Linked DNA regions of Homo sapiens. The protein of the gene in region 1 interacts with the protein of each later gene in a biochemical or structural test. Each region holds a gene or a part of one and is shown on either strand. Other genes may lie near its edges.

Region 1 (8,708 bases):
TGACTGAGCTCGGTCACTTCTTTTGACAGGCCTTGACACTGGGCCAGCATGCCCCCATCCTCAGACAGACTGCAGCCCCTAGAAACCCAAACACAGACTCTTCATGGCTACTCATGGGAGGGAGGGGAAGGAGAAATGATCCTTTGGGTAAATGTCTCCTCTTGACATAGGAGGTCACATTGCTTGTTAGCCAAGTGTTAAAATTAGAACATTTACACATATATATATATATATATATATTTTTTTTTTCATAAATACAGTTCTGCACTTTTCACAGCATAGAAATTTAGTGAAAGCGCACTGCTATTTTCAGGATTCTTTCCTCCAGGGGAGGTCTACTTCTTCAGAAGGTTCAAATTCAGAGGGCAAAAGAAGGCAACCACCTTCCTCCCTTGCCTCATGGCTCCCAGGTGGTGGGGGAAGAAAGGCGAAAAAGGATAAAAAGATAGAGAAAGACAGAGAAGATGGAATGGTTCAAAATTAAAAAAAAAAAAAAACAAAAAAACAACCCATCCAAAAAAGCATCAAAAACTCAGGTAATTACTGAGGGTCTTATATCAACAACTAAAAAGAAAAGAAAGTAAAGGAAACAGATGTATGTGATGTATGCAAGAACTGAGACTAGTGCACAATATGTTTCTCTAAACCAGAGGCCAAAACGGGTTACCAAACTGTCAACAAAATTCCAAAATGTGCAAAAAAAGGTATGTATTCATCTTCCATCTGAATTAGTATCTTTTCAAAGCCCTCCTGTAACAGAATTATTCCTTCCAAAATGCTTTAATAATTCAATACTGTGCTTATAGTGGCTATTTAGATGCTCTAAAATTCACAAAATATATTACATATGTAATCATACGTGTGGCTGTATAAGTATCATGCTACCATCCCTGCTCTACAGACGAAATGGAGGCATTTAAGTCTTGCCTTAATTTACCCAGAAAGTGAGTTAATCTGCTATTAGAACCATGGATAAAGATATTCTGTAACTATGCAGTTGTACGTATACACATAGATAACCCATAAGCCATCATTTCCAGATTCTTATTAGAAACAAGCTGAAGACGTGTACACATCTGTCAGATACACACGTGGGTGCACACAGACATCTATGTAACAGATGAACAGCAGTCCACTTTCCAACTGCAGGGACCTCTTTAAGGATGCCGTTGCTGGATGCTCATCAAATATAAATCCTTTTATCTCTGACAGTATCTAAACAAAGTCTCTTTGTAAAGAGACTTCAAACTTCTGGCTTAGAAGCTGAGGAGGGAAGAGAGAATGAGAGAGAAGAAAACAGTAGGAGAGAAAAGAAAAGAACGTGTGGGCGTGGATGTGAAAGTGAGGAACTAAGAAACCAGGCAGTTTGAAACGACCCCCTCAGAGCCGGGGCATGGGGAGGACTCCTACTCACATCCATTGGACGTTGTTTTTAGACTTCTTCTTAATGAGGTGGATGCCTTCCAGAACGTTGGTGATATCATAAATCCTTCTCTTTTGCACTTTTAGCACTTCTGCTGCCTTGTTCAAATCCAATACCCCATCGGGTGACTGGCTCAGGAGCTGAATGAACTTCTTGGTGAGCAGACCAAGAGACGTATCATACCGCGTTTTTTCTGAGGGAGATTTTGGAGCTTAAAGAAAAACAAAAACCGAGCGGGTGGGGGATAGGGGGAAAGGTAAAGAAATGAAGGGTGTCTTTGCAGTCAAGCAAGCTCTCTTTCCCACTGCAGCCAAAGTATTAGTATCTGAAGCAAGGCTGTCGTTGCTGTTGGTGTTGGCAAGTCATAGAAAGCTATGAAAGTTTTTTATTAGAGCAGGAAGGGAAGGTAAAAATTCCAGGGTTTGATTAAAGCATTTCACCTTGAATTTCTCAAGAGTTTCTACCTTGACTTACACCATTCCCTGGCTCCAATGAAGAATTTACATATAGCGGGCGCTAAAAAATATCTGTCAAATGAATGAAAGAGTGCTGTGGCCTCAGGGGACCAGCACACACGAGGCCTACGGTGATGGAGCCAGGCTATGAGTCTCACTAGCACTGCAGGACAAGGTCTTAAACAGACCCATCTCAAATGGCCTTTCAGGCTCTGGTATCTGTGTGTGCGTGTATCACCTGTTCACCAATTTTCCAAACAATGCTTCATTTTGATAAATAATTACCTGGAAAAGTCTTCTGCCAAATCTCCCCATCTCTCTTAAAGGAAATTTCCTTACTTAATATTGTACTTGTTCCCCCATAGGTGCACAGGTCAAGGTTTTAATTTAGTGTCACACAATTTGTGGATTGCCTAATGCATGAACTAAAGGAAGAGAGAGAACAAAGTCTAATTTAGCCCTTATGTTAAATGCAAACACATACATAATGGGACTAGTTGGCTATTTCTAACCTACGTTTCTCTCTCTCCCACAAGAAACGGTAATAGTATTTGATAGAAAGAGAAACAGCCTGCAATTTATCGGGCTCAATCAATTCTTACGCTATCATATGCTGAGCTGGAGATTGAGGTCGGCACAGACACTGGTGACTCTGGCATAGTTCGTGGACATCCAGTTTGCCTCAGACTCTGAAGCAATGTCCATTAAGGGAAGTTAAAATTAAATTTGATATAGAATGGTGCCAAAAGTTCGTATTCCGAGTTGAAAAATGAAACTACATACAGTTAAAAGAAGTCTTCCCTTATGGTACCAGTGTGACTCTGTAGCCTTTCACTGGTTGTCTGCTGACATTGTATTTATTTTTTTGGATAAGCACAGAAAGAAATGAAAAAGAACAAAACATGCCAGAATTATTCACACCTTGGCATCCTTCCGGCCATAAGCTTTGAAACTTGGAAATGCCATACCAAGGAGAATAAGGAAAGAGATGAAAAGATCCTTACTTTTTGGACTATCTGGACTTCGTAGTGCAGCTCTTCCTTTGCCCTTGGGGGTTTTTAAACCATCTGAGAGGTACTGATGACCGCTTTCTCCTAGCTCCAGCCTTCGCTTTGCCTGTAATAAGAAAGTGCGATCTCTCGTCACCGGTCATATGGACAAGAACAAGAAGGGAGGCAGTTTGTGGGCTGGCCTGCCAAATGCTGCAGGCTCATGCCAGCTCTCACCCCTCTGCTCCACCCCACTCAGCATCTTGTCATTCCCTAGAGCCAGGATTCTAGCGTTGTAGGCTGGGTTGTCATGCACACTCTCTTCACCTGCCGTGATCATCCGTCCACACCCAGATGGACAAACACAGCGATCCTTCAGCATTAGGTTCAGGAGTCACTTTGTTCATTGATTCAACACATCATGTGCCTGGCATGGGGTTGGATGCTAAGAATATCACAGGCGCCGTGGGGCTTAAATTCCCTTTCCACAGTGAGTCTTTCCTGCCCATCTCCCATTCTCCGACCTGGGTTGGACCCCCTTCCTTGTGCTCCCCAAACACTCTGTGTTTATTTGTATCATGACACTTATTCGGTATTACTGTAAGACTTATCTGTTTCTCATTTCCTTTAAGGCAGGGACTGTTTCCCATTTATCTTTGTATACCCAGTGCTTGGCACAGAGCCTGGGTTTCTGTAGATTTTCAATCACTCTCTCTATATACTGTATATTCAATGAGAGAAAGGGTGATTGGATCGTAACACAACTAGTCACAGACTACAAACGGCCCTTCATCGGGAAAACAAATACTGCAAACATGCAATCTTGGGCTTCAACCACTATTACTTTCTCCATTTTCTTATCAAGCCTAGCAAATGAGAAGCCCTTATCTAAGTTTTTAATTTAACTCCAATTAAATTTTAAAATATCCACATAGCGTCTTCTAGGTACCTAGGCATTGGGCTTAGTAAGCAAGATAGATAAGGGGCTTCGAGTCCAAGAGAAAAGATAGATGGTTAAGCAGTTGTTAAGTACTAATTGTATGGGTATGACAGGTGTTTTAGAAAATAAATGGCACCAACTGGACACTCAGCACAAAAATATGTATTTAGGCTCATTTTCAGGCAGATTCTTCTAATGAGGAGATTTGCAGTTTCTTTTTTTTAAGACAGAGTCTTGCTCTGTCGCCCAGGCTGGAGTGGAGTGGCGCGATCTTGGCTCACTGCAACCTCTGCCTCTGAGTTCAAGTGATTCTCCTGCCTCAGCCCTCCCCAAGTAGCTGGGACTGCAGGTGCACGCCACCACTCCCAGCTAATTTTTGTATTTTTAGTAGAGACGGGGTTTCGCCATGTTGGCCAGGCTGGTCTCGAAGTCCTGATCTTTGGTGATCTGCCCACCTTGGCCTCCCAAAGTGATGGGATTACAGGCGTGAGCCACTGTACCCAGCCGAGAGTTGCAATTTCAAAACAACTCCCCGTGATGTGAAAACGTAAGTAATAACTTATCAGCGGAAGCTAGATATTCAGCCCCTCTATGGAAAGTTACCAGCTAACCCTGCACCGTCTACTACGATAGCCACTGGTTACTAGCTCATCCAAACTGACATGTGCTATAATTGTAAAATACACACTGAATTTCGAAGACTTAGTACAAAACAGGGTAAAATATCTCAACAATTTTAGTAGTGATCACATGTTAAATGAAATAAATAAAATACAACTGACCCTTGAACAACATGGGTTTGGACTGTCCGTTTCCACTGATTTTATTTTTTTAGAGACAGGGTCTTGCTCTGCCGCCCAGGCTGGAGTGCAGTGGTGTGATCTCAGCTCACTGCAACCTTGTCCTCCCAGGCTCAAGGAATCCTCCCATCTCAGCCTCCTGAGTAGATGGGACCACAGGTGCACACCATGATGTCTGGCTAATTTAAATTTTTTTTTTTTTGGGTAGAGATGGGGCCTCTGTATGTTGCCCAGGCTGGTGTTGAACTCTTGGGCTCAAGTGATCCTCCTGCCTCATCCTCCCAAAGTGCTGGGATTACAGCCGTGAGCCACTGCACCCGGCCATGAGTGTGTCCACCTATATGTGGGTTTTCTTCTTCCTCTGTCATCCCTGAGACAGTAAGACCAACCCCTCCTCTTTTCTTTCACCACACCTTCCTCAATGTGAAGATAACGAGGATGAATTTTATGATGATCCACTTCCAGTAATGAATAGTAAATCTATTTTCTCTTCCTTATGATTTTTTTTTCATCCAGCTGCTTTATATGCCCATATGCCTTCTACACTTTGAACCCTGGACCAAGTTCAGCTGCTAGGAAACGCAAATTCCAGAGCATACCTAAGATGCATTGGATCAGAAACTCTGGGAATGGGGCTGAGCAATCTAACAGGCCTTCCAGGTGATTCTGATACACCTTAAAGTTGGAGAAACCTGGCTTTAGATCATAAGGGAAAAGAGTAAGACACTCAGGCAAAGCCCAGCTCTGCCCAGCACGGCCTATTTCACACACCCTCACCTCTAGTCCTGCTTGGCTGATGAGGGAAATCTATCCTGTGGATTCCACTTTCATTCATTCCAAACTTTCTTTTATTGATAACATTTCCTCTCTAACTTCATTGTAAGAATACAGTATATAATACATATACCATATGAAATGTGTTAATGACTGTTTATGTTATTGGTAAGGCTTCTAGTCAACAGTAGGCTATTAGGGCTGGGTGCATGGATCACACCTGTAATCCCAGCTACTCAGGAGGATGACTTGAGGCCAAGAGTTCAAGACCAGCCTGATCAACGTAGCAAGACCCCCCATCACTAAAATAATAATGAAAACCCCAAACAACAGGCTATTAGTTAAGTTTAGGGGAGTCAAAAGATCTATCTAAATTTTTGACTGTGTCAGGGCACCTCTAACCCCAATGTTGTTAATGGGTCAGATGTAGCATTAAAATTATTTCATCTGTTTCTTTATATATATATTTTACGATGTGGCTTGCCTCAGTGGCACACCTTATCTTTCTACTGCAGTGCTAAGTTAAACATCATTCTAATGGCTCCGGAAGGACAATCTGCTTGCTGGACTTCATCTTCCCCTCCCAGCCATTCTGTCAAGTCCTTGTGTGGGCCTGCTGTGGTTGGTCCAGCAAACATTCACTCTTTATCAGGCAGAAGCTCCCTGTTTGTTCCTTGGGGAGCCATCCCTTTCCTGGTCTAAGCGCATCTGTGCACACAGGTGATCCAGGCCTGGCTAATCATTGTGGCCCATCCTGCCCTCCCCGCCCCCACCGCGAACAGGTTGAATGGCTTATGACCAAGGCTGGAGGAGCAAAGGCTAACCCCAGGAATGTTTCTGGAACTATCTGGCAAGAAGCAGGTATGTCTTTCCAGTAAGGTTGGTAAGTGAGGAGCCTAAAGCTGCCTGAGAATGGGGCCTTCCCAGGGGAAAGCAGAGTGGAGAGAAGGAGAGAGAGGGGTCTGAGACCACCACTCAAAACTCTGGCTCTGGTCATGCCCTGGGGGCAACTGTTGGTCTTTCCCAGACTTTCCAGTTACATTAGCCAATAAACTCTCCTTTTTGCTTAAAGCATTTTTTTTTTTTGAGACCCGGAGTCTCGCTCTGTCACCCAGGCTGGAGTGCAGTGGTGCAATTTCAACTTATTGCAAGCTCCGCCTCCCGGGTTCATGCCATTCTCCTGCCTCAGCCTCTCGAGTAGCTGGGACTACAGGCGTCCGCCACCACGCCCGGCTAATTTTTTGTAGTTTTAGTAGAGACGGGGTTTCACCATGTTAGCCAGGATCTTCTTGATCTCCTGACCTCGTGATCCGCCTTCCTCGGCCTCCTCAAGTGCTGGGATTACAGGCGTGAGCCACCGTGCCCAGCTGCTTCAAGTGTTTTGAGTCGGGAACCTAGAATTGTGCTGTTGCCAGTGACAGCTTATGGAACTGGCTGAGTCAAGATGGCTATGGTGTGACAGGGAGTTGGCAGGCCTTGTTAGAGAGTGGCAGAGTGTGTTGGTCACTTCTTGTGACCGCCAGGAAGATACTACAGATAGAGAGAAACTTCATCTGAGGCTGGCCCGCCTCAAAGAAAACAGCTTTGCTATGGAGGCCTTCTCTACAGAAAGCAATCTAAGGAGACATAGAGCTGTATTCTCTGCCCAAATTAAAGTCAACAAATGGGCTGGGCACAATGGCTCACGCCTGTAATCCCAGCACTTTGAGAGGCCGAGGTAGGCAGATCACCTGAGGTCAGGAGTTTGAGACCAGCCTGGTGAAACCCTAACTCTACTAAAAATACAAAAAGTAGCCCAGCATGGTAGCATGCACCTGTAGTTCCAGTTACTTGGGAGGCTGGGGCATGAGAATTGCTTGAACCTGGGAGGTGGAGGTTGGTGCCTCCGCAATCCAGCCTGGATGACAGAGAAAGACTCTTGTCTCAAAAAATGAAAATAAAGTGAACAGAAAGAAGGCAAACTTGGAAAAGAGTCTGGGACCCAGAACTCCTAGGGACCTAGGGCCGTGCCTCAGCAGTAAAGAACCACCCACTGGTCAGCAGGCTGGGGGCATACTAGTTTTATCTCTCCCTCCCAGGCTGCTGTTTCAGACTGCCATGAGGCAAAGGCCTATGGAACCATTAAACTGTAGGTTAGGGAAATTTCCATGTCTGCTGCTAAGTGACTGAGACTTAACTTCGAAAGACCGGGACTAGTCTTCATGTGTAACTCTCGTTACTAAGCACCAAACCATAAATTGACCAAATTTGAATGCTAGATGGACAAGCTACTAAAATTGCAAGGCACTTTTATTGCGAAAGAATCACTAAGTCTAGAAAGTGAAGGTCCATGATGTTGAACCTCTAAGGAAATCAATCACTAGGTCCAAAAGCCACGCCAGAAATAAGTGAGGTGTGAAGAAGGGGCAGCCCCAGAATTCCTCCCAGGAGGTGGAACTTGGGGTGGACTTATAGGCTCTACAAACTGCTGTCCCTGTGGAGGACATGACAAGAAGCAGGAGGTGAGCACTTTATGTCATTTCCCCTTTTCAGAAGGGAGGTTCCCGTTGGGTTATCCTGTTATTTTTCCTCCCCTGTTGAGTGAACAGGGAGGGCGGAACTGGATTTGTGGGGACCACATATTACCTGTTTGGTCTCAGATCTGAACATGGGTGCAATAATTAGAATCTCTTGAAAAAGGGCTAAGAATTTTGATATTTGATGGAGCAGCATTATTTTAATGCTTAACTTAGCAAATTCAAGCACACATGCCTGGTAAAACAAAAAACTATATGACAGGATTTAAATAGTGCGGGTGAGCTCTGTCTACACCACCCTGCCCTGGGCTGAGCACCAGGGTAGATGGAAATCTCTTCTCTTGGTCATCTCAATTTTTGTTAGTTCACAGCGTGAGCATCGTACTGATTGGAGAGGTATTCATTGTTTATGCACAGATCTTTACATTACATGGCCCCTACCAGTAAAACAGCCAACTTATCCAGTAATCAACAGAAGGATGGGCCATTTGGTTCCAAGCAGTGGTAAAGCCTGGCTCTGTGAGATTCTGTGTGGAACTCCATGTGGCACCTTCCGGCAGTACTTTCAAGGGTAACTTGTACTATAAACAAGGTATGTGCTAACGTTAAAACCTCAGCCCCATGGACGTTAACATGCCTCTGCAAAGAAACAGTTGTACTGGTAAGCAGTTCTGAAAATCTATGTAGGAAAATGTATGTAGTTAGAGCTGGGTGCAATGGTAATGCGCCTGTAGTCCCAGGTACTTGGGAGACTGAGGCAAGAGGATCACTTGGGCCCAGGAGTTTGAGACCAACCTGGGCAGCACAGCAA
Region 2 (5,652 bases), on another chromosome or scaffold:
GAATATACATGGCAACAGCAATATTTTTCCATGAAATAAACACTAACACAGAAATGTATGGCTTATGGAGTATGTCCCCTCTCCAGGGTACATTCAGGATTTCTCTTCCTCATTGTCTGATATCCTTTCACACAGGGTCTAAATTGTGCCTCTTTTGGCCTTTATGCTGTTCTATTACAGATTGTGCATTACTTACATATTCCTAAGGCCTATTCTCTTATATTTGGTTCTAGTTAACCCACTACTATAAATTTTCAGGGTCTGTCTTGTTTTGCATGATACACTACCATTTCCAATTTCTAGTCGTTTCTCAAGACCCTAAAGTTTCATTCAGAAACTTCTCTTGTGCTAACACAATGTCCACTTGAAATCTCTATATGACACACTCCTATAGTACTAGTGAATGAAACCAAGAAAACAAAATAACCAAATCCTACCGACAGCCAAGTCTTTTGCTATTATTGCACCTAAGCTATTCCTGAAGAAATAATTTAATGAGATCATCTTATAAGGAACATTTATTTGGTAAACTATCTCATAGAAATAGACTCTAAAATCAAACAGTTTCTTAAACAACAGAGAGCATAATCCCAATCTCTCCCCATGAAAAGCCTACTTCATAACTGAAGTACCTAAAGCCCATGAACTGCATTACTAGAAGAAAGGAGGGAAAAAGACATTTACTAAACTTCCACAGGAAGACTGTATAAATCTGGAAGTGGTTAAGTACACATCAGCCTGTATCCAAGAATACTACTCAGTCTCAAAAATTAACTGAAAATCTAAACTTAATATGGATACTTCTTTGTTCTTGGTAAGGCTCAGAAAATTACCATCTATTTAAGTACGCATGGTACTAGTTACATGTCAACTGATATAATAAAAAAGGTGAAGTGGACAATCAGTATTTCAAACCCAATACAGGGAAATCACTAGATGTAAATAAGAACTTTTAAAAGCTATTCTTGAGCTCCACTTTAAAACAAACATTCAGGACTGGAATCTTCAGAATTTTCTAATATCTTGAATATCCCCATCTTCTCTTTAATTGGTCCTGAAGCATTCATTTGATCTAAGGGAAAAACATTAAAACAGGTACATTTTAGAAGTATAAGAAGAAGAAATCGTAAAAGAAACATCCAATATGATGTTATGAGAAGTGAGTCATCTGTCCAAAATTATAAAACTCACAGTAATACAGGGCACTCTCTTCCTTAATCACCAAGATTTAATAGCAGTGAAAGCAAAAAGGTACACTATTCTTAATACAACAACTAGAATCAGACTCTTGGGAGCATACAATCTAAAGCATCAGTTTGCTAGTCAAAATCGCTTTTGCTGAATTTAAGGTAAGATAAACAAGTCAAAGAGCAATAAATAATATCAATTTGAATCATGTTGTCAGAAACGTTTTAAAAAGAGGCCCAATCACGATTCGTTTAATAGCTGAAAACACACCACAAAAAGCTTACCTTGAGAAACATTTTGAATCAATGACAATATGTAGTCTCCTAAATTTTTATCAACATGACAGCTGTGAAATGAAATCTGATTTTCATTTGTATTACTGATTTCTAATCATCCTTGTCTGTTCATCAGACATTTCTTTCTCTCTTGGTAATAGCCTGCTCTTATATTATCCGTTTTCATTATCAACTTTTATTTACTTGCATATCCTAAACACTTCCTGTTATATGTTGCAAATATTATTTGTGGTTTGTCTCTTATCTCTTTATGGTGTCATCTGTCTTATAGTAGTCTTTCCTATTAATGTAATTAAAATCTATGAAACCTATCATATAATTTGTGATTTCTGTATTATAAAGAATTCTAATTCTAAAATCATAAATATATTTTCTTGTCTTTTTAGGTTAAAATTCTACCTTTAATATTTAGGTTTTGAACACGTGGATTGTTAATTTATCTGAAGTTTGTAAGTGCAGTGTGAGGAGAGGAGAATCTAAGTTAATTTTTCCCCTATTAATTACTATTTCCCCAGATCATCTATTGATTAATAGGAATTTCCTATCAGTTGTTTGAAGTTCCATTTCACATTTATTAGCTTTTCGTGAAAGTTGTCTTTCTAGATTCACCATATTGTACTTCTAGCCAATATATCACACCATGTGCTAATTCTACCATCTTGATTATTATGACTTTTAAATTTTTAATAAGACTTTATACCTGGTATAGAATATCTTGTGCTTCAAAACTGTCTTGGTTCTGGCCCTTTATTACTCTCTCATATAAATTTTAACAACAGTCTGTTTTACAAAAAGTCATTCTGGGATTTTTTTTTTTTTTTTTAAGAGACAGAGTCTCGCTCTGTCACCCAGGCTGGAGTGCAGTGGCACAATCTCCATTCACTGCAACCTCCACCTGCCAGGTTCTAGCAATTCTCCTGCCTCAGCCTTCTGAGTAGCTGGGATTATAGGCACATGCCTCCATGCCCCGCTAATTTTTTCTATTTTAGTAGAGACAGGGTTTCACCGTGTTGCCCAGGCTGGTCTCTAACTCCTGAGCTCAGGCAATCCACCTGCCTCAGCCTCCCAAAGTGATAGGATTATAGGCATGAGCCACCACACCCAGCCATCATTCTGGGATTTTAATTAGAAGAAAAATTCAAGAATATAAGTTAGTTTTGGGGACCACTGACTTACACTTTGTAGTAACCATTCATATCCACAAATACAGCTAAATCTGCATGTTTACTCAGTCTTTCTATTAACGTCCTTCAATGTTTCATAATTCTGTCCTTATATAAACATGTTAAAAATTGTTAAACTTTAATTGTAGGCATGTTAATTTTGTAGCTGTTGTAAAAACCTTCATTATTAAACAATTATTGCTGTTACACATATTATTAATAAGCAATCTTCTTAAATTCTATTTTAAAAGATTCTGGATTCCCTTGGACTTCCTATGAAGATAATCAAACCAGACCACTTGCAAATAAAAGCAGTTTCGATAATGCCAGCACTTTAGGAGGATGAGGCAGACAGATCACTTGAGCCCAGGAGTGTGAGACCAGCTTGAGCAACATGGCAAACCCCTGTCTCTACAAAATACACAAAACAAAATTAGCAGGACATAGTAATCACACCTGCAGTCCCAGCAACTTGGGAGGCTGAGGTGTGGGGATTGATTGAGCCCAGCAGGTTAAAGCTGCAGTGAGCCATGATCACACCACTGAACTCCAGCCTCGGTGACAGAACGAGACTTTGTCTCAAATAAAAAAAAATTATGAAGATGATTACGATATTATGGCAAGTTGGTTTTTGGTATCTAATTAGGTGATCATCTAGTTCTCCATTATTTAATTGATATGAATTATATTATCAGATGTTAAACAGTCCTTACATGCCTCACATAATGTTGTTTTTTAATATAGTTTAGATTTGACCATGATGCTGTATGTCTCATATTTCTCCCTAAACTATTTCAAAGTTAAAACTCAAATAAACATGCAAATAATCCAGAATATCTAAAACAATTTTGAAAAAGAACAAAACTAGAGAAAGTACACTTCCCATAAAGCTACCTTAATTAAATCAGTGCGATACTGGCATAGGAATACCACAGAGATCAATGGGACAGAATTGAGAATACAGAAATAAATCCTTATATTTATGATCAAATTATTTGCATCAAGGATGACAAGGCCATCCAATAGAAAAAGGATCATCTTTTTAACAAATTAATATTGACATGCAAAAAGATGAAAATTCATTGAAAATAGATCATAGATCTAAATGTAAGAGCAAAAACTATAAAACTATTAAAAGAAAATATCAACACCTTGAATTAGGCAAAGAGTAGTTACAGATGACATAAAAATCATGAGTGAACAGAAAAAAATTTGTTAAAATTGAAATTCATTAAAATTTAAAACTTTTGCTCTTCAGAAGATACTAAGTAAGTAAGTGAAGAGACAGGCCAGAGTAGAAGAAAATGTTTGGAAAATACATCTGATTAAAAAAAAAAAAAAAAAAACTTCCAACCAATATATTTTATTTTGATTCAATAAGACACAGAATTGAATTTTAAAATGAACAACATATTTGAAAATAAGATATCATGACACTGTAGCCAGTGCCACGCAGGTAAATGTTTAACAATTGGGTCTCAAAAAAAACAAAAACTGAGGCACAATGGCTCATGCCTATAATCCCAGCTTACTCCAAAGGCTGAGGCTGGAGGATCCCTTGAGCCCAGGACTTTTAGGCTGCAATGAGCTATAGTCGCACTCCTGCATTCTAGCCAGGAATACAAAGCAAGACCCTTTTTTGTTAAAAACAAAGACTGGGGTTTCTAGTTTCTGCCTGTATCCGTGATATGAATGTTACTGCCATCACCAATTTCAAAAGACCAAAATGTCACGGAATACAGTTGGGAAAAAAAGATTATACAGTATCTCCACCATACAGATGCAACAGACAAATAATCAATAGCCTAGACGACAGTAATATGTTGTAAAATAATTAGGAAATTATGAAGTACAAAATATTATTTTTGTTTTCAAAATAATTCATGGTCATCACTGTAGGCATCAGATCATAAGGTGGTATTCTAAAAACTGATAAAAAAAAAAAAAAGAAGCAATATATCCTGGCTCTCTTCTATCTCAGGGAAACTGTAAGGGAAAGTTCTTAAATAACCCAGCTAATAAAAGAATGACAGAACAAGAAAAATCACCATTTTGCAATGATTAAGTTAATAATGGTTCTTATCAGCCACTTTCAAGGGATACTAAAAATCACCACGTTAGGCTTGGTGCAGTGGCTCATGCCTGTAATCCCAGTGCTTTGGGAGGCTGGGGTGGGCACAACACCTGAAATCAGGAGTTCAAGACCAGCCTGGCCAACATGGCGAAACCCTGTCTCTACTAAAGATACAAAAATTAGCCAGGTGTGGTGGCAGGCGACTGTAATACTAGCTACTAGGGAGGCTGAGGCAGGAGAATCCCTTGAACCCAGGAGGCTGAGGTTGCAGTGAGCTGAGATCGTGTCAGCGCACTCCAGCCTGGGCGACAGGGCAAGACTCTGTCTCCAAAAAAATAAAATAAAATAAAATAAATCATCGTGTTAAGTAAAGGATGAAGGCTGACAAGACACTTTATAACATTATCTTGATTAATCTTAGCTCACTGGAAATAAGAAATCCAGATACGATGTGCCTCCTGGTATGACGAAAAATATGAGAACAAAGCACTGGTATTCTTAACTAAGACAGGAACTTGAATATATTCATTTACAAGTGTTATTTACCAGTTTACAGAAAATATCTGAATTATGGAAGAAGTTAAAGATAATGACATTTATGGGCAAAATGTCATGTCTGAGATTTGATTTTAATACTCTAAGAAGAAAAATGACAATAAAACAAGATTGGATACATGTGGCTGAATGAATTGCACAAGGGGTTCATTACATTATGCTAATTAAGTGTATGTTTCGAAGCTTCCATTAAAAAAAAGCATAATACTTACCAATAAGATCACTTCGATCTAACAACAACTCTAGATCTTTATCACTAATGACCTTCTCTCTTGATCCTTTTATTTCCCTATAGAAAACAAAATATTCAAGTCTATGTGAATAATTCAAAGCTACAAATTAAATCTTTCTAAAATTAAAAACTCACCTTTCATAA

Evidence for each region.
Region 2: the proteins of E2F3 (region 1) and HELLS form a complex in vitro, tested with the Homo sapiens proteins (one study listed by BioGRID).

Annotation. Positions count from the first base shown.
Region 1 is NC_000006.12:20,474,132-20,482,839, reverse strand, and holds part of E2F3 (transcription factor E2F3), read right to left. Parts: intron 2,995-8,708; coding exon 2,883-2,994; intron 1,635-2,882; coding exon 1,415-1,634; intron 79-1,414; coding exon 1-78.
Region 2 is NC_000010.11:94,596,948-94,602,599, reverse strand, and holds the end of HELLS (lymphoid-specific helicase), read right to left. Parts: coding exon 5,644-5,652; intron 5,566-5,643; coding exon 5,489-5,565; intron 1,073-5,488; coding exon 978-1,072; 3' UTR 501-977; downstream 1-500. UniProt on the Homo sapiens protein: Plays an essential role in normal development and survival. Involved in regulation of the expansion or survival of lymphoid cells. Required for de novo or maintenance DNA methylation. May control silencing of the imprinted CDKN1C gene through DNA methylation.